Linked DNA regions of Homo sapiens. The protein of the gene in region 1 purifies or fractionates together with the protein of each later gene. This does not show direct contact. Each region holds a gene or a part of one and is shown in the gene's direction. Other genes may lie near its edges. The genes, in order: NMD3, GFPT1, SDAD1, HAT1, SLX4, PUS7 and NOP58.

Region 1 (3,500 bases):
AGAATAGAACATTTCTGTCGTGGCATGAAATTCTGTTGGACAGTACTGACCTTCTAGAACCTTTAGGACATCGGCCTTATATTGAGGATTTTTAGAATTATAGCCATTTTTGGTGTTTTTGCCCCTGTATTACAGGGTTATTCTTTATCTACTGCATCTTTGAAGATTGCTTTGTTTCTTTTTTTTGTTTCTTTTTTTTGAGACATTGTCTTGGTCTGTCACCCAGGCTGGAGTGCAGTGGCGTGATCTGGCTCACTGCAACTTCCACCTCCTGGGTTTGATATGCATGCCTCAGCCTCCCAAGTAGCTGGGATTACAGGCGTGCGCCACCATGCCTGGCTAATTTTTGTATTTTTAGTAGAGATGGGGTTTCACCATGTTGGCGAGGCTGGTCTTGAACTCCTTATCTCAGGTGATCTACCCGCCTCAGCCTCCCAAAGTGCTGGAATTACAGGTGTGAGCCACTGGCTGGCCCAGGTTGCTTTGTTTCTGTTATTTTTTTGAAAAGGGCAAAGATGCTGTGGCCTAACTTGAAGGCTTTTGTTTGTTTGGCATCTAAAAAAAAATTTAGTGTATTTTAAAAATCTAATGTGAAAAATTTATCCTTTATTTATTAAAGCTTGTGCTGTGAGTGTGGTGTTCCGATAAGTCCAAATCCTGCCAATATTTGTGTGGCCTGTTTGCGAAGTAAAGTGGACATCAGCCAAGGTATTCCGAAACAAGTCTCGATTTCGTTCTGCAAACAATGTCAAAGGTACAGTGCGGTACAATTTTGCTCTTTTTAAAGTTGGAATTTACATTTAGAGAACCACCGAGATATGCTGAGATTACACGAAGGTATATGGAGTAAAGTGCATGCAATTAAGGTTTAAATTTTCTGTTGGTGTCGCCAAAGATTTTAGAATTTGCAATTTTATAGTGTACTTTTCTAGTGTGTCCTTCTAATCTGGTAAAGATAGTGTAAATGTATTTGAATCTGTTCTTCTGTTAAAGGATCTAATAGATTTGATGTATATAGTTAATAGGAGTTGATGTTTGTAAGGGTGAGAGCAGATTATTGAGGACATATTGTTATTATGAGGTTTTTTTTTCTTTAGTTATTAGAAGCCATGTATGATAAAAAGCTTATGTTTGGAGTAATTTAGTAATATGTTTTAAAAACTCATAACATTCACGTGTAATTAAAATAACTATTGTTGATGGAAAAGAAGCTCAATAAATTATATCTGGAATGGTCTGAAATAAAGATTGGATTTGAAGGAAGAAGACTTCTTCTGAATGTTAATGTTTCATTCCTCTTGATTTTCTTTGTCAGCATAAACAACTTACATCTATTAGGCCATTGAGTAACACAAAACTGCCTAATGAGTGTAAAAGTGTATGCCTGTTATTTCCAAAATGGATTAAGACGCTAACTTTTTGAGTGTGTATCTCTAGAGGGGTGGTTCATGGACTCCTTTGAGAATTTGAAAACTGTATCTCTTCCCCAAAATATTTACATACATGTATATATATGTGTGTGTGTGTGTATATATGTAAAAATATATATGTGTGTGTGTGTATATATACATATATATACACAAACACATGAAACTGTGTACTGTTTCAGGGAGTTTACAGTGTATAAGCTTAGCAAGTGTGAGGCTTAATCTTTTATAAATATTTGCTATTAAAAGCCTGGTGGAGTTAGAAAAGTACTGATAAAGAACTAAACAGACTTAGTTTGTCTTGGCTTCCTCACAAACTAGCTGTTTGAAACTCTTAGCTGTTTATCATCTCTGGGCCTCAATTTCCTCATCAGAATGAAGGGTTTTATTAGGTGATATGTGAAGCCCTTTCTAACTCTAAACGTTTACTCATAGGCCAGGCTTGGTGGCTCACGCCTGTAATCCAAGCACTTGAGGAGGCTGAGGCGGGTGGATCACCTGAGGTCAGGAGTTCGAGACCAGACTGGCCAACATGGTGAAACCCTGTCTCTACTAAAAATACAAAAATTAGCCAGGCGTGGTGGGGCACGCATGTAATCCTAGCTACTCGAGAGGCAGGAGAATCGCTTGAACCCGAGAGGCAGAGGTTGCAGTGAGCCGAGATCATACACTGCACTCCATCCTGGGGGATGGAGCGAGACTCTGTCTCAAAAGAAAAAAGGAAAAAAAAATACGAAATAAATATGTACTTATAAACAAAGGGAGACCTGTGTAATGTTTTTGATTGAACCTTGAAAAGTGAAAGTCAAAACTTTCTGTTATGTAACAAGTATGGCAAAAAGACATTCACATAACATGTTTGGAAGTATTTTATATTTAGCAAGCATTTATTGAACACCTACTATAAGATGTATGTGGCATAGTGCTAAGTCCTGGGTAGGCAGGACTAAAAACCTTAAAGCACATATGTAAGAGATTTAAGTTTTGTTTTAGTCTGGTTTTACCCAAGATTTTAAATGTTGTTTTACAATTTACAATTTGAAAAGGACTTGAAATGTAGATGAATAGACTGAACTATTGCTGATTTATAGTGTTGTGAGGTACTAATGTACCTTTTTTTTGTGAAAAATAAGCAGTTCTCAGGCATTTTAGAAGTACATAATAAACCATTTTAATGCCATTTTGAGATGATTCTCACCTGTTTTTCAGAGCATAGCTTTAAGAGACTCTTGGACATTTTAGTGGTGATTTGGTGATTAAAGTAATAAGATCACTTTAGTAGGTTATTTCAGATTGACTTTCTCAGTCAGAATTTTACCTTTTTAATTAAAGCTGCTAGTCTAGTTGAAAGTTTTGGAACCATTAAAATATGTTTGAGTTAAGTGCTTCATATCATCCTTGGGTTTTATTATGCCTGGTTAATAATTTGGGTTATATCTGTGTATTCAGATGGAAATTTCTGTGTTTCCTGACAGATGTTGGATTTCAGTATGTTATCTTCTCTTTTAGGTATTTTCAACCACCAGGAACTTGGATACAGTGTGCTTTAGAATCCAGGGAACTTCTTGCTTTGTGCTTGAAAAAAATCAAAGCCCCTCTGAGTAAGGTAAGTTAAACAGCTAAAATCAGTATTCATAGGTATGTTTTCATTAAAGGTCTCATTTTCAGAAAATTCTTGTGAGTAGGTTTTTCAAAAGGAATTTTTTTTTTTTTTTTTTTTTTTGAGGTGGGGTCTTGAACTGTCACCTGGGCTAGGCTAGAGTACAATGGTGTGATCTCGGCTCACTGCAACCTCTGCCTCCCGGGTTCACACGATTCTCCTGCCTCAGCCTCCCAAGTAGCTGGGATTATAGGCGCACACCACCACATCTGGCTAATTTTTTGTATTTTTAGTAGAGACAGGGTTTCACTATGTTGGCCAGATTGGTCTCGAACTCCTGACCTCGTGATCTGCCTGCCTCGGCCTCCCAAAGTGCTGGGATTACAGGCGTGAGCCACCATGCTGGCCTCGAAAGTAACTATTAAATGTTACTATTGTTGCCAGTAGCACCCCACTACAAACACTTTTTAAAG
Region 2 (3,500 bases), on another chromosome or scaffold:
CGTGGTAATGTTTTGTTTTGTTTTTTGATTGGAGGATTTCTTGGAATCTTTAATGTATTAATAATAAGCATTGAGAATCTCCCAGAGAAGAATAGTGTGTCTATTTTCCAAATTTATTTTATCTTCCTTTTTCTTGGTAGTTTGGAATATACTTTGTCCTTTTTATTTGCATTATTTTTGGTTTTGCTGAGTGTCAAGTCACTTAAGCTATCCCTAGCTTTTAACAGATTTTGCTATTGTTTTTATAAATGTGAAGTTATACCCTTCTGATTCGACGGTGTATATAAAATGGAATTTTGGGGATGGGCGCGGTGGCTCACGCCTGCAATCCCAGCACTTTGGGAGGCTGAGGTGGGTGGATCACCTGAGGTCAGGAGTTTGAGACCAGCCTGACCAACATGGTGAAACCCTGTCTCTACTAAAAATCCAAAAAAATTAGCCGGGCGTAGTGGCGCATGCCTGTAATCCTAGTTACTCGGAAGCCCGAGGCAGGAGAATCTCTTGAACCCAGGAGGTGGAGGTTGCAGTGAGCTGAGATAGTGCCATTCTACTCCAGCCTGGGCGACAAGAGTGAGAGACTGTCTCAAAATAAATAAATAAATAAGTAAATAAATAAATAAATAAATGGAATGTTTGCAAATGAGATCCTTTTTAAAAGCAGTAAAGGAACTTGCAATTTTAAAGTATCCTAAAATGAATTTTTCAAAAGTTTTTTGTAATTATACTGTCTAATGGCTTTGGAGATAATTGAGGGATGCTGAGATTGGCTGCTAGGATTGGTCATAAAACCAGTACTATTAACATATCCTTACATATACTGGATATGAAGAAGTTGTGAGAGAAAATAATTGCTTAATAAGCATTTCTTCAATTGTCCCCTGGAAATGGAGGTTAATAGGTTCTGGTAATGAGCAGTAGAAGGCGGGAAAGGGTTTTGTAACACAAGTTTGGGAAATTCTGCTCTTGGAGATTCACAATTAGCAAGATTAAAGGTTCCAGAAAGTTCTAAATATATACCTAACTTTAACCAGGTAGTTCTTAAACCTTTAATTATGAAACCTTTCTTTACTTCATTCCTTTTTAGCATCCGGTGAAATAGTGTTCTGTTTCTGTGGTTTGAGAATTTTTTGACCGTATATTTCAGGTGCCTAGAAAGTGTTAGAAGATACTTGCAGGTATTTGAAATGATGGCTTTATACTTGGCACTCTGCCCTTTGCAGAGATGACTAAAATAAGAGAGTTGCCTTCAAGAAATTGCTGCCTGATCAGAGGAAAGAAAATGAATGCACATGCAACAGCTTCAGGTGAAAATACACAGTCCTTGTTCATTGCCATGTCATAGACCACAAGTAGAATGAGTAGAAATTTAGAGACTGGAGAGCTCTGGGGTTTGGGTTTCTGTGTTAGGTTCAGGAATGTTCTGGGTGATGGGGCAGGACTTTTACTCAACTTGTAGAGTATTAGTATACTGTGAGAGGTAATCATTAATGGCATATGTTAACCGTCAGTGAATGGAGGCGGAAATAGTTTGAGAACTACTACCAGATGAAGGAGGAAATAGAAGTGCCAGGAAAACAGACCAAGGAACAGTGGTTAAAGGCAGAAGAGTTCCAAAGTAGTATATTGCCTTGAACAGAGTCTATAAAAGTAGAAAAAGGTCATTCATATGTAATACTGCAGAGAAGTTAATTGGATATGGTTATGAAGAAATTATTAGAGAAATTGCATATGTCAAGGCAGAAGGGTCTCAGTTTGTGTTTAGGAGGAGGGCTGCAAGTAATATGAAAAAGAAGAGGATTTTGGGATTGAGGTCCCCTGGGAGTGTTGAGAAGTTGAATTCTAGAGCTGTGGTTCCTGACCTACAAGCCCTGAAGTTGTTACAGGGTGTTCATTGCTTATTCATATGCTTATAACTTTGTCTGTAAGTTGAATAAAGATTGTTCTAGATCATTGAATAATAAAAATTTAACCCATTGTTGTGAAGGAGCCTCAGAATATTTTGATGTTAACAAAAGAGTTCTGTATTTACAAAGTTGGAGAAACACTCATCAAGAGTTAGGAGTAAGGCCCAGTGTGGGGTTCCCTCTGGTAATACCAGCATTTTGGGAGGCTGAGGTGGGCGAATCACTTGAGGTCAGGAGTTTGAGACCAGCCTGGCCAACATAGCGAAGCCCCATCTCTACTAAAAATACAAAAATTAGCCAGCTGTTGTGGTACGCACCTGTAATCCCAGCTACTTGGGAGGCTAAGGGAGGAGAAGTGCTTGGACCTGGGAGGTGAAGGTTGCAGTGAGCTGAGAACACGCCACTGTACCCCAGCCTGGGTGACTGAGTGACACTCTGTCTCAATTAAAAAAAAAAAAAAGAGTTATAAGTAGCCAGTGTTTTGGCTTACACCTGTAATCCCAGCCACTCAGGAAGCTGAGGCAGGAGGATTGCTTGACGCTAGGAGTTCAAGATCAGCCCGGGCAACATAGTGAGATCCCATCTCTATTAAAAAAAAAAAAATTAGCCAGGCATGGTGGTGCATACCTGTAGTCCAGTCTACTTAGAAGACTGAGGTGGGAGGATTGAGTCCAGGAGTTTGAGGCTGCAGTGAGCTATGATTGTGCTGCTGCACTCCAGCCTGGGTACTGGGTGACAGAGCAGGACTGTTAAAAAAAAAAAAAAAAGTTACAAGTAGGGGAGAGGCTAGCTTCAGAGAGTAGTATGTGTAATATGTCTCTCTTGAGATTACAAGGAAGGATGAGAAGTATTTATATATTGTTAAACTGTTGAAAAGAAGATGGGTGAGGGGCAGTGACTCATGCTTGTGAACTCAGCATTTTGGGAGGCTGAGGTGGGAGGATCACTTGAGGCTTGGAGTTTGATACCAGCCCGGACAGCATATTGAGACCTTGTCTCTATATTTTAAAAACAAAAAAAGAAAATGAAGACTTTAATTCTGGCCAGGCGCAGTGGCTCACGCCTATAATCCCAGCACTTTGGGAGGCCGAGGCGGGCAGATCACCTGAGGTCAGGAGTTCGAGACCAGCCTGGCCAGCGTGGTGAAACCCTGTCACTGCTAAAAATACAAAAATTAGCCAGGCGTGGTAACACACGCCTGTAATCCCAGCTGCTGCTCAAGAGGCTGAGGCGGGAGAATCGCTTGAACTCAGGAGGTGGAGGTTGCAGTGAGCTGAGATAGCGCCACTGCCCTCCAGCCTGGGTGACAGAACGAGACTCTGTCTAAAAAAAAAAAAGACTTTAATTCTATAAAGTAAGAATCTACCAAAAATGAAAAAGAAGCTGGGAAGAGAAAATGAGGATTTGAGAGTAGTATGTAGCTTAGACTCTAAAATAATATCTGGGAGAAGTTTGAAAGTTAAGCAAGTGATGAATTAATAGGATTGGTCAGCAGTTCGGAGGGCCCATCCGAAAGTGGACCGAAATGGATAGGATAGATGAGTTCTCCTTGGCTGTCATAGTTCAGTGTAGAGATGCTCAGAGACTAGGAGTCAG
Region 3 (3,500 bases), on another chromosome or scaffold:
CCTGTAATCCCAGCACTTTGGGAGGCCAGGGTGAGAGGATCACTTGAGGCCAGGCGTTTGAGTCCAGCCTGGGCAACATAAAGAGATCCCGTCTCTACAAAAAATAAAAATGAAAAATCAGCTGGGTATGGTGGTGAACGTCTGTGGTCCCAGCTACTTAGGAGGCTGAGGCAGGAGGACCTCTTGAGCCCAGGAGTTTGAGGTGGCAGTGAGCTATGATTGTGCCACTGCAGTCCAGCTTGGGTGACAGAGGGAGACCTAGTCTTTTTTTTTTTTTTTTAAGGTACCAAAACAGATACATAGACCAATAGAATAGAACAGAGGCTTCAGAAATAACGCCACACATCTACAACCACCTGATCTTTGACAAACCTGACAAAAACAAGCAATGGGGAAAGGATTCCCTATTTAATAAAACGTGTTGGGAAAACTGGCTAGCCATATGCAGAAAGCTGAAACTGGACCCCTTCCTTACACCTTGTACAAAAATTAAATCAAGATGGATTAAAGACTTAAACAAGAGTCCTAAAACCATAAAAACCCTAGAAGAAAACCTAGGCAATACCATTCAGGACATAGGCCCGGGCAAGACTTAATGACTAAAACACCAAAAGCAATGGCAACAAAAGCCAAAATTGACAAATGGGATCTAATTAAACTAAAGAGCTTCTGCACAGCAAAAGAAACTATTATCAGAGTGAATAAGCAACCTACAGAATGGGAGAAAATTTTTGCAATCTATCCATCTGACAAAGGGCTAATAGCCAGAATCTACAAGGAACTTAAACAAATTTACAAGAAAAAAAAAACCCCATCAAAAAGTGGGCAAAGGATATGAACAGACATTTCTCAAAAGAAGACATTTATGCGGCCAACAAACAGTGAAAAAAAGCTCATCAGCACTGGTCATTAGAGAAATGCAAATCAAAACTACAATGAGATACCATCTCACGCCAGTTAGAATGGCAATCATTAAAAAGTCAGGAAACAGCAGATGCTGGAGAGGATGTGGAGAAATAGGAACTCTTTTACACTGTTGGTGGGAGTGTAAATTAGTTTAACCATTGTGGAAGACAGTGTGGCAATTCCTCAAGGATCTAGAACCAGAAATACCATTTGACCCAGCCATCCCATTACTGGGTATATACCCAAAGGATTATAAATCATTCTACTGTAAATACACATGTACACATATGTTTATTGCAGCACTATTCACAATAGCAAAGACTTTGAACCAACCCAAATGCCCATCAATGATAGACTAGATAAAGAAAATATGGCACATATATACCATGGAATACTATGCAGCCATAAAAAAGGATGAGTTCATGTCCTTGCAGGGACATGGATGAAGCTGGAAACCATCATTTTCAGAAAACTATCACAAGGACAGAAAACCAAACACCGCATGTTCTCACTCATAAGTGGGAGTTGAACAGTGAGGACACATGGATACAGGAAGGGGAACATCACACATTGGGGCCTGTTGGGGTGGGGGGCTAGGGGAGGGATAGCATTAGGAGAAATACCTAATGTGGATGACAGGTTGATGGGTGCAGCAAACCACCATGGCACATGTATACCTGTGTAACAAACCTGCACATTCTGCACATGTATACCAGAACTTAAAAGTATAATTTTTAAAAAGGGGTGGCAGTGGGGGGGTGGGATTTTGACTGGAGAGCTTCATGTACTTGAGATATAATTTATATTTCTGCCCTGTTATTTTTCTGCTGATTTGAGTGCTCTGCATACATGGATATGGTAGTAGGGGTCATTTATTTTTATTTTTATTTTGTGAGACAGGGCCTCCGTGTTGCCTAGGCTGGAGTGCAGTGGCATGATCATAGCTCACTGCAGTCTCAACCTCCCTGGGCTCAAGTGATCATCCCATTTCAGCCTGTTGAGTAGCTGGAATTACAGGTGCACGCCACCACACCCTGCTAATTTTTGTATTTTTTGTAGAGACAAGGTCTCCCTGTGTTACCCAGTTTGGTCTCGAACTCCTGGGCTCAAGTGATCCTCCCACTTTGGCCTCCCAAAGTGCTGGGATTACAAGTGTGAGCCACTACACCCAGCAGTCGGGATCATTTAGATAGTAACTGGCAGAACAGGGCTACAATCTGAATTTGGGATTCATGCTTCTCTGTTCTTACACCATGCTGCCTAAACTTGTAGTGATAATTCCAAGGAAAAGTTCTTTAGATTATCTGTGATGTGCTCAGGTCTTTAAAAAGCGCACTTTGAAGAATGCAGATAAGGCAAAAGGAGTGTTTTTATATACTTTTGCATTATCTTTTTCTCCATGTGATCGTCAACAGTTTCTACTAAGAATTTCTCTACTGAATGTCTGTACTGAGAAAGTCATGTAATACAATGTGACAAACTTAAATTTTATTTTTCTGCAGTTTCTACAGCAGTATAATCACTACAAATCCAATGTGGAGATTTTCAAATTGCAACCAAATAAACCCAGCAAAGAACTAGCAGAGCTGGTGATGTTTATGGCACAGGTAAGAATATAATTGCTTAAATAAAGACCAGTATTAACACACAGTTTGCTGAATGTTTTTTCACTAATACTCAACCTTATTCCACTCTGGAATGGGAACTTAATTAAAATATTTTTCTAACTTTCCCTTTTTGCAAATTTTATTTTCTCCCTATCATGAGTTAGAGAATGTCACTAGATCTTTTTGCATAACTAACCAGGACAAAACTTTAAGACTATTTTTTTTCTTCAAATTCATCATAAAAGCAGGTACTAAATCATGCCATAAATATTACTAAGACTAGAGAAACCATGATAAATGTTGGAGAAATTAACATGTAGAAGGAAAAGAAGGTTGTTTGGAACCATCTACTTCTATGAAACATAGCCTTTTACTCTCGTTTTGCAGAACATCCTAAATGTATGCATCTGAATTATAGGAGAGAAAGAGAGCAACTTCAGAAGAGCCTTTGCTTTGTTACAGATTAGTCACTGCTACCCAGAGTACCTAAGTAATTTTCCTCAAGAGGTGAAAGATCTTCTCTCCTGCAATCATACCGTATTGGATCCAGATCTGCGAATGGTAGGACCAGTAGTTGGATGAATAAATTGTGCTGTGTTCATGTGTGCTGCGTTCATATATATTTAAATGAGAACAGCCTCTAAGCTAATTATCTTCAGAAAACGTAAATTATAATGTATTATCCTTTCCTAAAAATCCTTCTATGGCTTCTCATTTATACTTAGAGTAAAACGGAAACTTAATAACCTGGCTCAAAAGTGCCTGCATGATCTGCTTCCAGCCTGTGTTTCTGATATCATATTGTTTTCAGCTACACTGTGATCTTTCTATTCTTCCAGCACACTAACCCTACAGGATGCTCTTTAACCTTTTGAGATGATTTCTTCTAGTCATTCAAATCTCATATGCATGTAGAATCCTAATCACAACTTGTCATTTTTATAATGCCTTAAATTAGTAAACTTACCCATTAGACAGTCAGTTTGA
Region 4 (3,500 bases), on another chromosome or scaffold:
GGATTTGCTGGGTCAATAGGGTATTTGTATGTTTAACTTTATGGGATACTTGGCCAGACTGACTTCCAAAGTACTTTTATACTCACATCAACAGTGTATTAGAATTTTCGTTATTCCATATCCTCACCAACATTTTATGTTGTCAGTTTTTAAAGTTTTAGGCATTCTACTGGGTTTATAGTAGTATTTCTTTGTTAATAGTACTTCATAGTGGTTGTAAAGATTAAATAGGTTTTAATTGTCTTTTCCCTCATAACTAATGCTATTAAGGATTGTTTTTTTAATGTGGTTATCGACTATCTCCTTTTGGACTCATGTATTCACATCTTTTGCCCATTTTAAAATTAGGTTATTTGTCTTTTTGTTATTAGTTGTAGGTGTTATTTACCTACATATTCTGGATGAGTCCTTTATGCAGATTACATGTTTTGTGCACATTTTTCTCTCAGTTTGTGGTTTGCCTGTTCATATTCTCAACTTTTTTTGTATAACTGGAAGTTTTTAGTTTTAATCATGTCCAGTTTATTAATTTTAAAAATTTCTATTAGTGTTTTCTGGTTCATGCCTAATATCTTTGTCTACCCCAAGGAGATCATGAAGCTCTCCTAATGTTTTCTTCTGGAAGGTTTTTAGTTTTAGCTTATTAAAATTATGTCCATGATCCATCTCATGTTATTTTTCATGTCCAATATGAGGAAAGGGATTAAGGTTTGTTGTTCCATGTGGATATCCACTTGTTTCAGTATAATTTGTGTGAATGCCTTGGTGCGTTTTTAACAAAAAAATATTGAACTTACACGTGTGGATCTACATCTGGACTTTTCTCATTCATTGTCTGTTTTTCTGTCAATATCGTACTGTCTGGATTAGTGTAACTTTCTATTGATTCCTGGTAGTGTGAGTCCCACATCTTTATTTTTTAAAGATTGTTTCGATTATTCTTGACCTTATTTCTGTATACATTTTGGAATCAGGTGGTTAATTTCTATTTAAAAAGTTCTGACTAATCTTAAGATTACATTGAATCTAAAATTGAATGTGGGGAGAATTGCTATCTTAATAACATTGAGCCTTCCAGTATATGAACATGATGTATTTCTGTATTCTAGAAATGTTTCAGGTTTTCAGTCTTGCATGTATTTTGTTAAATTTATCTGAGTAAATCTACATCTTTTGATTTTTGATGCTCTTAAAAATGGTATACTTTTTTATTTATTTATTTTTGTATGTGTGACATGTTCTCACTTTGTCACCGAGGATGGAGTGCAGTAGCGTGATCTCCACTCACTGCAACCTCTGCCTCCGAGCTCAAGTGATCCTCTTACCACAGCTTCCCGAGTAGCTGGGACTCCGCATACACCACCATGCCTGGCTAATTTTTGTATTTTTTGTAGAGACAGGGTTTCGCCTTGTTACCCAGACTGGTCTTGAACTTCTGGGTTCGAGTGATCTGCCCACCTAGGCCTCCCAAAGTGCTATTACAGATGTGAGCCACTGTGCCTGACCTAAAAATGATATACTTTAAACATTTTCTCTTCCAATTGCTTGTTTTATGTGTGTGCATGTGCATATGCATGGACACACAATGGCACAGTTTGTGTAATTGTTTTGTATTCTGCAACCTTGCTAAATTCACTTATTATTGTAGTTTTTTGTATTCTGGGCTTTTTCTGAGAGAGTGGCTCACTCCATTGCCAAGGCTGGAGTAGAGTGGCGTGATTGTGGCTCACTATAGCCTTGACTTCCCAGGCTCAAGCGAACCTCCCACCTCAGCCTCCTGAATAGCTGGGACTATAGGTGCGTGCCACCATGCTTGGCAAAATTTTTTTTTTTTTCTAGGGACAGGGCCTCACTATATTGCCCATGCTGGTCTTGAACTCCTGGGCTCAAGCAATCCTCTTGCCTCAGCTTCCCAAAGTGCTAGGGTTGCAGACATAAGCCACCACACCCAGCTATAGGATTTTTTTTTTTAGATGTAGATTATTTCAGATTTCCTGCACACAAACATTACCTGTTAATGAAGAAAGTCACAGTTTTTCTTTGCCTTATACAGTTGTCCATTGGTATCTTCAGGGATTTGGTTCCACGATCCCCCGTGAATACCAAAATCTGCCGATGATCCGGTCCATTATACAAAATGCCATAGTGTGGCTGGGCATGGTGGCTCACATCTGTAATCTAGCACTTTGGGAGGTTGAGGCAGGCAGATTGCTTGAGCCCAGGAGTTTGAGACCAGCCTGAGCAACATGGCAGAACCCCATCTCTACAAAAAATACAAGAATTAGCCAGGCATGATGGTGTGCATCTGTAGTTGCTACTCAGGAGGCTGAGGTGGGAGGATCTGCCTGAGCCCAAGAGTTCTAGGCTGCAGTGAGCTGTGATTGTGCCACTGCACTCCAGTGTGAGTGACAGAGTGAGACCCTGTCTTGATAGATAGATAGCCATATAGCCGGGCATGGTGGCTCACGCCTGTAATACCAGCACTTTGGGAGGCTGAGGCAAGAGTTCGAGAAGACAAGCCTGGTCAACATGGTGAAATTCCGTCTCTACTAAAAATACAAAAATTAGCTGGGCGTGATGGCACACACCTGTAATCCCAGCTACTTGGGAGGCTGAGGCAGGAGAATTGCTTGAGCCCAGGAGGTGGAGGTTGCAGTGAGCCGAGATTGTGCCACTGCACTCCAGCCTGGGCGACAAAGCAAGACTGTGTCTCGGGGGGGAAAAACAGCCATATAGTACAGTCAGCTCTTTGTATCTGCAGATTCTGTGTTTGAGGATTCAGCCAATCTCATGTTGATCCGTAATTGGTTGAATCAGTGGATGTGGAACCTGCATATGTGGAGAGCCACTTGTGTTTCATTTTCTTGCCTTACTGCACTGGCCAGAACCTCTATTACAATGTCAAATGGAAGTGATAGAGTAGACATCCTTGCCTTATTCCCAATTGAAGAAGGAAAATTTTGAGCCTTTCACCATTCACTATGATGTTAGCTGTAGGTTTTTCATATGTGCCCTTTATCAGGTTGAGGAAGTTTCCTTCTATTCCTAGTTTGGTGAGAGTTTTTATTATGAAAGTGTTACCTTCTAATGCTTTTTCTTTATCAAGATAATCATAAGATTTTTCTCCTTTAATTCTGATAATGTGGTGAATTACATTGATGAGGTTTTAAGTGTTAAATTAGCCTTGCATGCCAGTATATTATCCTTTTTCTGCTTTGCTAGATTTGACTTGGCAATGTTTTGTTAAGACTCTTTGTTCATGACAGGTAATGGTTTCTTTTTTCATACGTCTTTGCTTGATTTTGGTATCAAGGTTTCCTGGCCTCATAAAATGAGTTGGGAACTGTTTCTTCTCTATCTTCTGGAAGAATTTGTATAAGACTGCATTATTCCTTTAAATGTTCAGTAGCATTCACCAGTGAAGTTTTATGTGCCTTGAGTTTTCTTTGTTGGAAGGTTTTTAACTATACATCTAATAAATAGATTTAATACTGTTCTGA
Region 5 (3,463 bases), on another chromosome or scaffold:
GCGGAGGCCTGATTTTTTTTAAAAGAACATTTAACTCTCACATCCACATGACACTGCTCTTCCACTCGGGCACCCGGGGAAGCTGCTGCTGCCACCATCCCTCAGAACTGGGAGCAGCATATCTTTTGTTTATTTTTTATTTTTGGAGACAGGATCTCACTCTGTTGCCCAGGCTGGAGTAGAGTGATGTGATCTTGGCTCACTGTAGCCTCAGCCTCCCGGGCTTAAGCGATCCTACCTCATCCTCCCTAGTAGCTGGGACTACAGGTGACACCACCACGCCTGGCTAATTTTTGTATTTTTTGTAGAGGCGGGGTCTTGCTATGTTGCCCAGGCTGGCCTTGAACTCCTGAGCTCAAACTGTCCTCCTGCCTCAGCCTCCCAAAGTGCTGGGATTGTAGGCGTGAGCCATTGTGCCTGGCTGGCAATGTTTCTTTTGGAATATTCAGAGTAAGCTTAGTTGGCGCCTAGAATAGACACTAACCTCTGATGCTCACAGAAGTCAGGCATCTATGGTTTGTCACACAAGCCATTCGCTGAATGCATTGGGTATCACTCTTTGCTAAGATAGGGAACGTGGAGTGTGGACCAGCTGTGTGGGTGGGTCCTGAGATCCACCTGTTCCTCCGTCAGGTTTGGAGTCCGCCCTCTGCCTAAACGCCAGATGGTTCTGAAGCTGAAGGAGATATTCCAGTACACTCACCAGACCCTGGACTCAGACTCCGAGGACGAGAGCCAGTCCTCACAGCCGCTGTTGCAGGCGCCTCACTGCCAGACCCTCGCCTCCCAGACCTACAAGCCTTCAAGGGCAGGGGTCCATGCCCAGCAGGAGGCCACCACAGGACCTGGGGCCCATAGGCCCAAGGGACCTGCTAAGACCAAGGGCCCCCGACATCAAAGGAAGCATCATGAAAGCATCACACCCCCAAGCAGGTCGCCCACCAAGGAGGCACCTCCAGGCCTCAATGATGACGCCCAGATCCCAGCCTCTCAAGAATCCGTGGCCACCTCTGTGGATGGCAGTGACAGCTCCTTGAGCTCACAGAGGTAACCGGATGGATGCGATGGGGTCAGTGGCCTCATGTATCCTCTGGCCCGTGGGCGTGAGGGTTGGCACGAGTGAGACCTAATGGCCAATCTTCAAAAACCCCCGTCACCTTCTGGGTTTGACCTGTGGGAAAACCAGGTGGGTTTAGGGGGCTGGTTCCCTGACCCCAGCCCTGCGCAGGCCTCCTGGTTCCTGCCCCACATGCTAGACATTTCTGGCTGGGGCAGGATCCCGCTGGCGTAGCCTGCAGGGATCTCTCAGGCCCGTCCTGCCTTGCTGGGGATCGTGCCACAGGCCAGGCTCCATGGGACCCGTAGACACCTTCCTTCCTTTAAAGAGGCTCATGGTCTCAGGGGCTGGAGAGAAAGGGGTTGCACAACGTCCTGGTCTGGCTCTTTTCAGTTCTTCCTCCTGTGAGTTTGGAGCGGCATTTGAGTCTGCAGGTGAAGAGGAGGGCGAGGGGGAGGTCAGTGCCTCGCAGGCAGCCGTGCAGGCGGCGGACACAGACGAGGCGCTGAGGTGCTACATCCGCTCCAAGCCGGCCCTGTACCAGAAGGTGCTGCTGTACCAGCCCTTTGAGCTGCGGGAGCTGCAGGCAGAGCTGAGGCAGAACGGCCTCCGTGTGTCCTCGCGCAGGCTGTTGGACTTCCTGGACACCCACTGTATCACCTTCACCACTGCCGCCACCCGCAGGGAGAAGCTCCAGGGCAGGAGGCGGCAGCCTCGGGGCAAGAAGAAGGTGGAGCGGAACTGATGGGGCCATCCCGACCCCACCCCAACCTGCCATCAGCAGCCCCCACCCCCGCCATTTGCAGGGAGGACCTGGGACACCCAGCGTGGGTCAGGCCTCCACAGGCATTTCTGGGCCTGGGGACCACATCAGCTCTGCGCTGTGATGATGACCACAGCCCAATCCAGGGCTTCCTCCTCTGGGCTCTGCTTTCTAGGGTGGCATTTGGAGCATGTCACCCACTGGATTTACAGACTCCAGCCCCTTCCTCTGTCCGTGCTCACAGTGTGTCTCCCTTTTTGGTTTTCTTTTTTTTTTTCTTTTTGAGACAGTCGTGCTGTGTCACCTAGGCTGGAGTGCAGTGGCACAATCTCGGCTCACTGCAACCTCCGCCTCCCGGGTTCAAGCAATTCTCCTGCCTCAGCCTCCCAGATAGCTGGGACTACAGGCACACGCTGCCACGCCCAGCTGATTTTTTATATTTTAGTAGAAACGGGGTTTCACCATGTTGCTCAGGCTGGTCACAAACTCCAGAGCTCAGGCAATCCGCCTGCTGCGGCCTCCCAAAGTGCTGGGATCACAGGCGCCAGCCACTGCGCCCGGCCCAGTGTGTCTCCCTTAACCCAAGAGGGCCCTCAGCTGTCCCAGGGGGCAGTGGGCCATCACCAGCTGGCCAGGGCATGGCCTATTCTGCCACATTTGCCACCCTCTGAGCCCACCAGTCCTGGGCACAGCTGCCCTACATGTCTGTCCTGAGATGGACGTCAGGTCCAGCCTGCCCCGGCAGCCCGGGCCCGTCCTCCTCAGCACTCAGGCCAACCCCAGCCACCGCCAGCCTGAGACCAGGTGTCCTGAGGCTCCCTGCACTGCCACAGCCCAGATGCAGTTCTCCTGACCCAGCCGTGCTACCCGGACACTTGTCATTGTTACCAGCAGTCTCCAAACTGGACAGTGCACAAGGGCCCAGAACAACTCTGATGCCACCACAAAACAAACATGTTCACTAGCGGATTCCATTCTTTGGGTTAAAGCTGCCTCCAGCCTCAGGAGCAGTGTGGAGGAAGATGAGGGCCAGGAAAGAAGGAAACCTTGGTTTCTCCATCCTTGTGAATGTCCTCGTCTGTTTCAAATACAGTGCAGTCAGTTTTATATGATGTGCAATAAACCAAAAAGGCTTTATTAAAATCTGGCTGCCACACTCCAGGGAGACCACGAGCGAAACGGGGGACCTGGAGGCACCGTGGCCCCTCAGCCCGTGCCCCACGCCTGCAGAAGTCCCCACCTTGCACCTGCCCTTTACTTTGGAGTAACCTGGGCCTGCTGTCTCCTCATTTCAGTTCCCAGACCAGAGATGCAGATGTTCATCCATTAATCCACACACCCGTATCCAACAGAGCCCTGGCTGGGTGCCAAGCTCCAGCCCCCGCACCTCAAAGTGGGGCCCAAGCACCCCCAGCTGCTGCCTCAGCCGGGAGTTGCTACAAAAGCAGATTCAGGCCCCACCCCACAACTCACCAAGACAGCACATGCCTTTACCATTGCGTCCGGTCCAGTGGAGGAGACAGACGCTGGCCTATCCCAGCCTGGTGGGGAGTCGGGCTCCAGTGGCTTGAAGGGCCGTGTCAGGGACAGCCTCCCAGAAGAGGGGTTTGTGAGCTGCATCTTAGGGCTCAGCAGCATTTAGG
Region 6 (3,500 bases), on another chromosome or scaffold:
AGAGTTTCGCCCTTGTTGCCCAGGCTGGAGTGCAATAGCGCAATCTCGGCTCACCGCATCCTCTGCCTCCCAGGTTCAAGTGATTCTCCTGCCTCAGCCTCCTGAGTAGCTGGGTTTACAGGCATGCGCCACCATGACTGGCTAATTTTGCATTTTTAGTAGAGATGGGGTTTCTCCATGTTGGTCAGGCTGGTCTCGAACTCCCAACCTCAGGTGATCCCCCGACCTCAGCCTCCCAAACTGCTGGGATTACAGGCATGAGCCTCCACACCCAGCTATTTTTTTTATTTTTTATTTTTTTGAGATGGAATCTTTGTTGTTCAGGCTGAAGTACAGTGGTGCAATGTTGGCTCACTGCAATCTCCACCTCCCAGGTTCAAGCAATTCTCCTGCCTCGGCATCCCAAGTAGCTGAGATTGCAGGCTTTTGCCACCACATCCAGCTAACTTTGTTGTATTTTTAGTAGTGGCGGGAATTTCACCATGTTGGCCAGGCTGGTCTTGAACTCCTGACCTCAAATGATCCGCCTACCTCAGCCTCCCAAAGTGTTGGGATTACAAGTGTGAGCCACTACGCCCAGCCCTATTTTTATTTTTATTTTGTAACAGGTAAGTCTTGGCTCAGTAAGTGATTCAACAGTAATCTGTTGGGTAACTCAGACCCAGAGTAGCCAGACAGAGATGTCACATTTTCTGATCTGTGTTAACACGTTTATTAAACTTTGATCTGCCCTTCCCTCGCTCTTAATTTTATTTTATTTTTTATTTTTATTTTTTGAGATGAAGTCTTGCTGTTGCCCAGGCTGGAGTGCAGTGGTGCCATCTCCGCTCACTGCAACCTCCACCTCCCAGGTTCAAGTGATTCTCCTGCCTCAGCCTCCCACGTAACTGGGATTGCAGGCATGCACCACCTCACCCAGCTAATTTTTGTATTTTTAGTAGAGCCGAGGTTTTGTCATGTTGGCCAGGCTGGTCTCGAACTCATGACCTCCAGTGATCTGCCCGTCTTGGCCTCCCTAAGTGCTGGGATTACAGGCATGAGCCACTGTGCCTGGGCCCCTTCCCTCACTCTTTAAAGAATGTAATAAATGATAAAATTAGTGACATGGAATTTAAGAATTGTCATTTACTTTTAAACAATTAAGAACCCCTCTAGGGTAACCTACAGTGGGAATCCCATCAATAAATAGTTGGGTTCCTAAATCTACTTCTGGAATCCTGTTGCCCAGCAGAGACTCTGTTACATAAACTAATTATTCGCGTGGGAGTTAGAATTGTGGTAGTTACAAGCTGGAAGTTATCTAAGCGTCCATGTTCTTCCTTGTCTTTCAGACCCTTCATGTTAGCAAACTTAGGCTTTGAGAGGTCTGCCTGAACTCATCAATTGCTTGGCTTTAGTTTGGGAGTAGAGTTTTCCGGGCTTCCAGTCCATTGTTTCAGCATCTAAACTATGAAGTTGCATTCATTTTTGTGATTTTAAAAGCGCAAAATGATAAAAATCTATATTTCCTCTGCCTCTTTGAGGAGGTTAAAAAGCTCAGGTGAAAACAGACTTGAGTTCTGAGGCTTAAATTACTCATCTGTAGAATGGAGATAATAATACCAATTCACAGAATGGTGAAAATGAAGTGAGATGATGTTTATGCTACATCTATTTTTATGCCTAGAATATAGTGATTGCTAATATGTTTTCAACCTTGCTAATGGTCAGAGGACATTGATAAAATAGTAAAAATGCTAATTGTATTATGGGACAGAATAAGGGAGCACTGTATCAACCTGTAAATTTGTAATTAATTTGGCAGAAGGACAGCCATGGAATCCTATACGTTGTGTATGCCAAAGATAGTGTAAATAAATATAAGTAATTAAAATGAGGTCAAATTTATCCCACAACAAAAATTACATAGCGTGACCAAAGGTCAGTACGGTCAGCTCAAAATTCCAAATCATTCATTTTCACAACATAAGAATATTTCCTGCTTTCAAGGAAACGCACTGTTAACACCATAGAATTTCCTGAGGGAAAAAACAGACTTTCAGTTTATATTGTATAGGTGGAGAAATGACTTGTATCCAAAATATTAAAAGCTCTTACAACTCAAGAACAGAAAGACAACGCATTCTAAAACTTAGCAAAGGGTCTGAACAGACCTTTCTTTAAATAATGTAATCAAATGGCCAATAAGCACACAAAAAGATGCTTATCACTAATCTTTAGGAAATGCAAATCAAAACCACAGTGAGATGCCACTTCTTACCCACTAGGATGGCTAAAATAAAAAAGGCAGAGAATAACAAGTGTTAGGATTAGAGAAATTGGAACCCTTATACATTCCTGGTGGAAATGTAAAATGGTATAACGATTTTGGAAAATAGTCTGACAGTTCCTCAAAAGGTTATAAAGTTAGCCTATGACCCAGGCATTTCTAGGTATATACTGAGGACAACTGAAAATCATATGTTCACACAAAAGTTTATACAGATGTTCATAGCAGCCAAAAGACTGGAAACAACCCAAATGTCCACCTACTGATGAATGGATAAACAAAATATACAATGTAATATACAATAATATACAGTGGAATATTACTTAGCAATAAAAAGGAATGAAGTACTGATACATTCTGCAACGTGAATGAACCTTGAAAACATTGCTAAGTAGGCAGGGCACAGGGGCTCATGCCTGTAATCCCAACAATTTAAGAGGCCAAGGCGGCAGGATCACTTGAGGCCAGGAGTTCAAGACCAGCCTGGGCACCATAGCAAGGCCCCATCTCTACAAAATAAAATTTTTAAAAAATTAGCTGAGTGTGCTGCTGCCTGGCTTTGGTCCTAGCTACTCAGGAGGCTGAGGCAGGAGGATCACTGAAGCCCAGGAGTTTGAGGATGCAGTGAACAGTGTACCACCACTGCACTGTGGCCTAGATGACAGAGCAAGACCCTGCCTGTGAATGAATGAATGAATCAATTTCTATGAAATTTCCAATGTGAGCAAATCTATAGAAAAAGAGCTGGAACAGGACCAATGGGGAGTGACTACTAATGGGACAGGATTTTTTTTTGGTGGGGGTGGGTAATAAAAATGTTGTAAAATTGTGTAATGCTCCACAGTTCTTTAAAAATACTAAAAGCCATTGAATTGTACACTTACATGGGTGAATTATATGTTATGTGAATTATTGAATAACTCAGCAAAAACTTTGAAAAAAAGAAAGTGAGCCAGGCACAGTGGCTCACGCCCGTAATCCCAGCCCTTTGGGAGGCCGAGGTGGGTGGCGGATTGCTTGAGGTCGGGAGTTCAAGACCAGCCTGGCCAACATAGTGAAATCCCGCCTCTACTAAAAATACAAAAATTATCTGAGTGTGGTGGCATGAACACCTGTAATCCCAGCTACTCGGGAGGCTGAGGCAGGAGAATTGCTTTAGCCCGGGAGGCAGAGGTTGAAGTGACCCAAGATTGTACCACTGCACTCCAGCCTGGGCGACAGAGTGAAACTG
Region 7 (3,500 bases), on another chromosome or scaffold:
TCTAGCCACATTTTTTTCCAACGAAAATGGGGTCCTTATATTTTTTAGAAATATATTTATTAGAAAACTTTTAGTAGGGGTGTATTGCTGGAGATGAAATAAAATGTGAGAGTGGAAAGAAAGACTAGGAAAATAGCCTCCCAAATACAGAAAGCAGAACAATTCGGGCGGGGCGCGGTGGCTCACACCTATAATAATCCCAGCATTTTGGGAGGCCAAGGTAGGAGTATCACGAGGTCAGCAGATCGAGACCATCCTGGCTAACACAGTGAAACCCTGTCTCTACTGAAAATACAGAAAATTAACCGGGTGTGGTGGCAGGCGCCTGTAGTCCCAGCTAATTGGGAGTGCAGTGGCGCAGTCTCACAGCTCACTGCAGACTTGACCTCCTGTTCTCAAGCAATCCTCCCTCTTCAGTAGCTGGGACTACAGGCACATGCCACCATGCTGGCTAATTATTTTATTTTATTTTATTTCATTTATTTGAGACAGAGTCTCACTCTGTTGCCCTGGCTAGAGTGCAGTGGCATGATCTCGGCTCACTGCAACCTCTGCCTCCCGGGTTCAAGGGATTCCCCTGCCTTAGCCTTCCAAGTAGCTGGGATTACAGACGCCCGCCAACACGCCCTGGCCTCCCAAAGTGCTAGGATTACAGGCATGTGCCACCACGCCCAACCTGTAATTTTTTTTTTTTTTTAAGACGGAGTCTCACTCTGTCGCTAGGCTGAAGTGCATTGGCTCAGTCTTGGCTCACTGCAACCTCCGCCTCCTGGGTTGAAGTGATTCTCCTGCCTCAGCCTCCCGAGTAGCTGGGACTATAGGCACCTGCCACCACACCCGGCTAATTTTTGTATTTTTAGTAGAGACGGGGTTTCATCATGTTGGCCAAGATGGTCTCGATCTATTGACCTTGTGATCCACCCGCCTCGGCCTCCCAAAGTGCTGGGATTACAGGCGTGAGCCACCGCGCCTGGCATAACCTGTAATTTTAAAAAGAAGCTAAATAACAGGTAGTAAAAGATCTCCTTAAACCAACTACTTGGTCAAATTATATTAATCTTTTTATAGCTTTTAATTTATATAGCCAAGCTGTCTTCTGGAAGCTTGTATCAGTTTTTACTTCCACCAGTGATACAGTCAAGTATTCTACAAACACACTGGAAATTATGCTTCTTGTCCAACTGAGAAATGCGTATATTTAAATTAGTGCCACTTTAATATTTAGGAAATAATTTCAGGCTGGGCGCGGTGGCTCATGCCTGTAATCCCAGCACTTTGGGAAGATGAGGCGGGCGGATCACTTGAGGTCAGGAGTTTGAGACCAGCCTGTACAACATGGTGAAACCCCGTCTCTACTAAAAATACAAAATTAGCTGGGCATGGTGGCTCATGCCTGCAATAATCCCAGGCCGAGACAGGAGAATCTCTTGAACCCAGGAGGCGGAGGTTGTAGTGAGCCAAGATTGCGCCACTGCACTCCAGCCTGGGCGACAGAGTGATACTGTGTCTCAAAAAATAATAATAACAACTTCAGGAAAGTCTTTTTTTTTTTAATTTAATATAGATGTTCATGTTCTTGTAGGAAAAGCTGAATCTCAGTTGTATCCATAGTCCTGTTGTTAATGAACTTATGAGAGGAATTCGTTCACAAATGGATGGATTAATCCCTGGGGTAGAACCACGTGAAATGGCAGCTATGTGTCTTGGATTGGCTCACAGGTGAGAATTACTGGAAAATAAAGTCAACTTACTTTTATTTGATAAGCGCTTAACATAGATCTGTTCTAAGAATGTTACAAATGCTCATTTGAACCACATCAGAACCTTATGAAGAAGATGATAGTAATATCCTCATTTACAGATGAAACTGAAGCCCAAGGTCAATACAGCTGGTAAGTGGTAAAGCCAGGATTTGAACCCAGGCAGTCTGGCTCTATTGTCTGGATTCTTAAAACCTTAAAACCTCATCAAAGGAATTCTCTACTACTCTGATCTTGGATGCCCTGTTTCTTGGGCTTTCCCTCCTTTATCTCTGCTAAGTCATGCCACTCCTCCATCTACTTAGTATTCCCCCAAATTCTCTCATCTGCTATGGTCTTATGGGATAGGTGTGTATTTGTGTTTTCATTGCTTTACTCTGATTTTTAATAAGGCAAAGAGGACTAGGTGCAGTGGCTCACCCCTGTAATCCCAACTCTTTGGGAGACCAGGAGTTTGAGACTAGCCTGAGCAACATAGCAAGAAATATGTCTCTCTCTGTGTTTTTTTGTTTGTTTTGTTTTTGTTTTGTTTTTTTTGAGGCAGATTCTCACTCTGTCGCCCAGACTGGAGTGCAGTGGCGTGATCTCTGCTCACTGCAGCCCCTGCCTCCCAGGCTCAAGTGATTTTCTTGCCTCAGCCTCCGAGTAGCTAGGATTACAAGCGTGCACCACTACTGCCCAACTAATTTTTGTATTTTTAGTAGAGACGGGCTTTCACCATGTTGGCCTGGCTGATCTTGAACTCCTGACCTCAAATGATCCATCCGCCTTGGCCTTCCAAAGTGCTGGGATTATAGGCATGAGCCACCACACCCGGCATTTTTTTTTTTTTTTTTTTTTTTTTGAGTCAGGGTCTCACTCTGTTGCTCAGGCTGGGGTGCAGTGGTGCGATCTTGGCTCACTGCAACCTGGACATCCTGGACTCAAACAATGCCACCTCAGCCTCCCAAGTAGCTGGGACTGCAAGTGTGCGCCACCATCCCTGGCTGATTTTTTAACTTTTTGTAGAGACGGGGTTTTGCCATGCTGCCCAGGCTGGAACTCCCAGGCTCAAGTGATCCACTTGCCTTAGCCTCCCAAAGTGCCGCGACTGCAGGGGTGAGCCACCATGCCCAGTCTTCTCCCTATTTTTAATTGCATGTTAACCCTATCATATTTCATTAGAAGTCCCTTAGAATAGGCATTATTGCTATGTTGTGATACATCTGTTCATGAAAAGCTTAATACTTTGGAATTGCACTACAGTTAACAGGGTTGTGAAGAAAATAATGGTAGGTAGTTGCTCAAAACCTGTGCAACTTTGTAATCAGTACTGTCAAATAGTAATCCTAATAAAATTATTACCACAGTTCAAAAGACATTTTAAGCTAATATTAAAAGAAACACTACAGGCTGGGCACGGTGGCTCACGCCTGTAATCCCAACACTTTGGGAGGCCAAGGCAGGCAGATCACAAGGTCAGGAGATCGAGACCACGGTGAAACCTCGTCTCTACTAAAAATACAAAAAATTAGCCGGGCACAGTGGCGGGCGCCTGTAGTCCCAGCTACTTGGGAGGCTGAGGCAGGAGAATGGCGTGAACCCGGGAGGCAGAGCTTGCAGTGAGTGGAGATCGCTCCACTGCAGTCCAGCCTGGGTGACAGAGTGAGACTCCATCTCAAAAAAAAAAAAAAAAAAGGGAGAAAGAAACACTATAGGCCAGGCGCAGTGGCTCACGCCTGTAATACATCCCAGCACTTT

Evidence for each region.
Region 2: the proteins of NMD3 (region 1) and GFPT1 fractionate together in Homo sapiens (co-fractionation; one large-scale study listed by BioGRID). This does not show direct contact.
Region 3: the proteins of NMD3 (region 1) and SDAD1 fractionate together in Homo sapiens (co-fractionation; one large-scale study listed by BioGRID). This does not show direct contact.
Region 4: the proteins of NMD3 (region 1) and HAT1 purify together in Homo sapiens (affinity purification with mass spectrometry; one large-scale study listed by BioGRID and IntAct). This does not show direct contact.
Region 5: the proteins of NMD3 (region 1) and SLX4 purify together in Homo sapiens (co-immunoprecipitation; one large-scale study listed by IntAct). This does not show direct contact.
Region 6: the proteins of NMD3 (region 1) and PUS7 fractionate together in Homo sapiens (co-fractionation; one large-scale study listed by BioGRID). This does not show direct contact.
Region 7: the proteins of NMD3 (region 1) and NOP58 fractionate together in Homo sapiens (co-fractionation; one large-scale study listed by BioGRID). This does not show direct contact.

What each region holds. Positions count from the first base shown.
Region 1 is NC_000003.12:161,224,311-161,227,810, forward strand, and holds part of NMD3 (60S ribosomal export protein NMD3), read left to right. Parts: intron 1-619; coding exon 620-754; intron 755-2,936; coding exon 2,937-3,033; intron 3,034-3,500. UniProt on the Homo sapiens protein: Acts as an adapter for the XPO1/CRM1-mediated export of the 60S ribosomal subunit.
Region 2 is NC_000002.12:69,380,728-69,384,227, reverse strand, and holds part of GFPT1 (glutamine--fructose-6-phosphate aminotransferase [isomerizing] 1), read left to right. Parts: intron 1-1,144; exon of another isoform or gene 1,145-1,222; coding exon of another isoform or gene 1,223-1,304; intron 1,305-3,500.
Region 3 is NC_000004.12:75,980,946-75,984,445, reverse strand, and holds part of SDAD1 (protein SDA1 homolog), read left to right. Parts: intron 1-2,408; coding exon 2,409-2,513; intron 2,514-2,900; exon of another isoform or gene 2,901-2,975; coding exon 2,976-3,074; intron 3,075-3,480; exon of another isoform or gene 3,481-3,500.
Region 4 is NC_000002.12:171,928,961-171,932,460, forward strand, and holds part of HAT1 (histone acetyltransferase type B catalytic subunit), read left to right. Parts: intron 1-3,500. UniProt on the Homo sapiens protein: Histone acetyltransferase that plays a role in different biological processes including cell cycle progression, glucose metabolism, histone production or DNA damage repair. Coordinates histone production and acetylation via H4 promoter binding.
Region 5 is NC_000016.10:3,580,681-3,584,143, reverse strand, and holds the end of SLX4 (structure-specific endonuclease subunit SLX4), read left to right. Parts: intron 1-633; coding exon 634-1,047; intron 1,048-1,450; coding exon 1,451-1,802; 3' UTR 1,803-2,963; downstream 2,964-3,463. UniProt on the Homo sapiens protein: Regulatory subunit that interacts with and increases the activity of different structure-specific endonucleases.
Region 6 is NC_000007.14:105,477,272-105,480,771, reverse strand, and holds part of PUS7 (pseudouridylate synthase 7 homolog), read left to right. Parts: intron 1-3,500. UniProt on the Homo sapiens protein: Pseudouridylate synthase that catalyzes pseudouridylation of RNAs.
Region 7 is NC_000002.12:202,282,763-202,286,262, forward strand, and holds part of NOP58 (nucleolar protein 58), read left to right. Parts: intron 1-1,582; coding exon 1,583-1,719; intron 1,720-3,500. UniProt on the Homo sapiens protein: Required for the biogenesis of box C/D snoRNAs such as U3, U8 and U14 snoRNAs. Part of the small subunit (SSU) processome, first precursor of the small eukaryotic ribosomal subunit.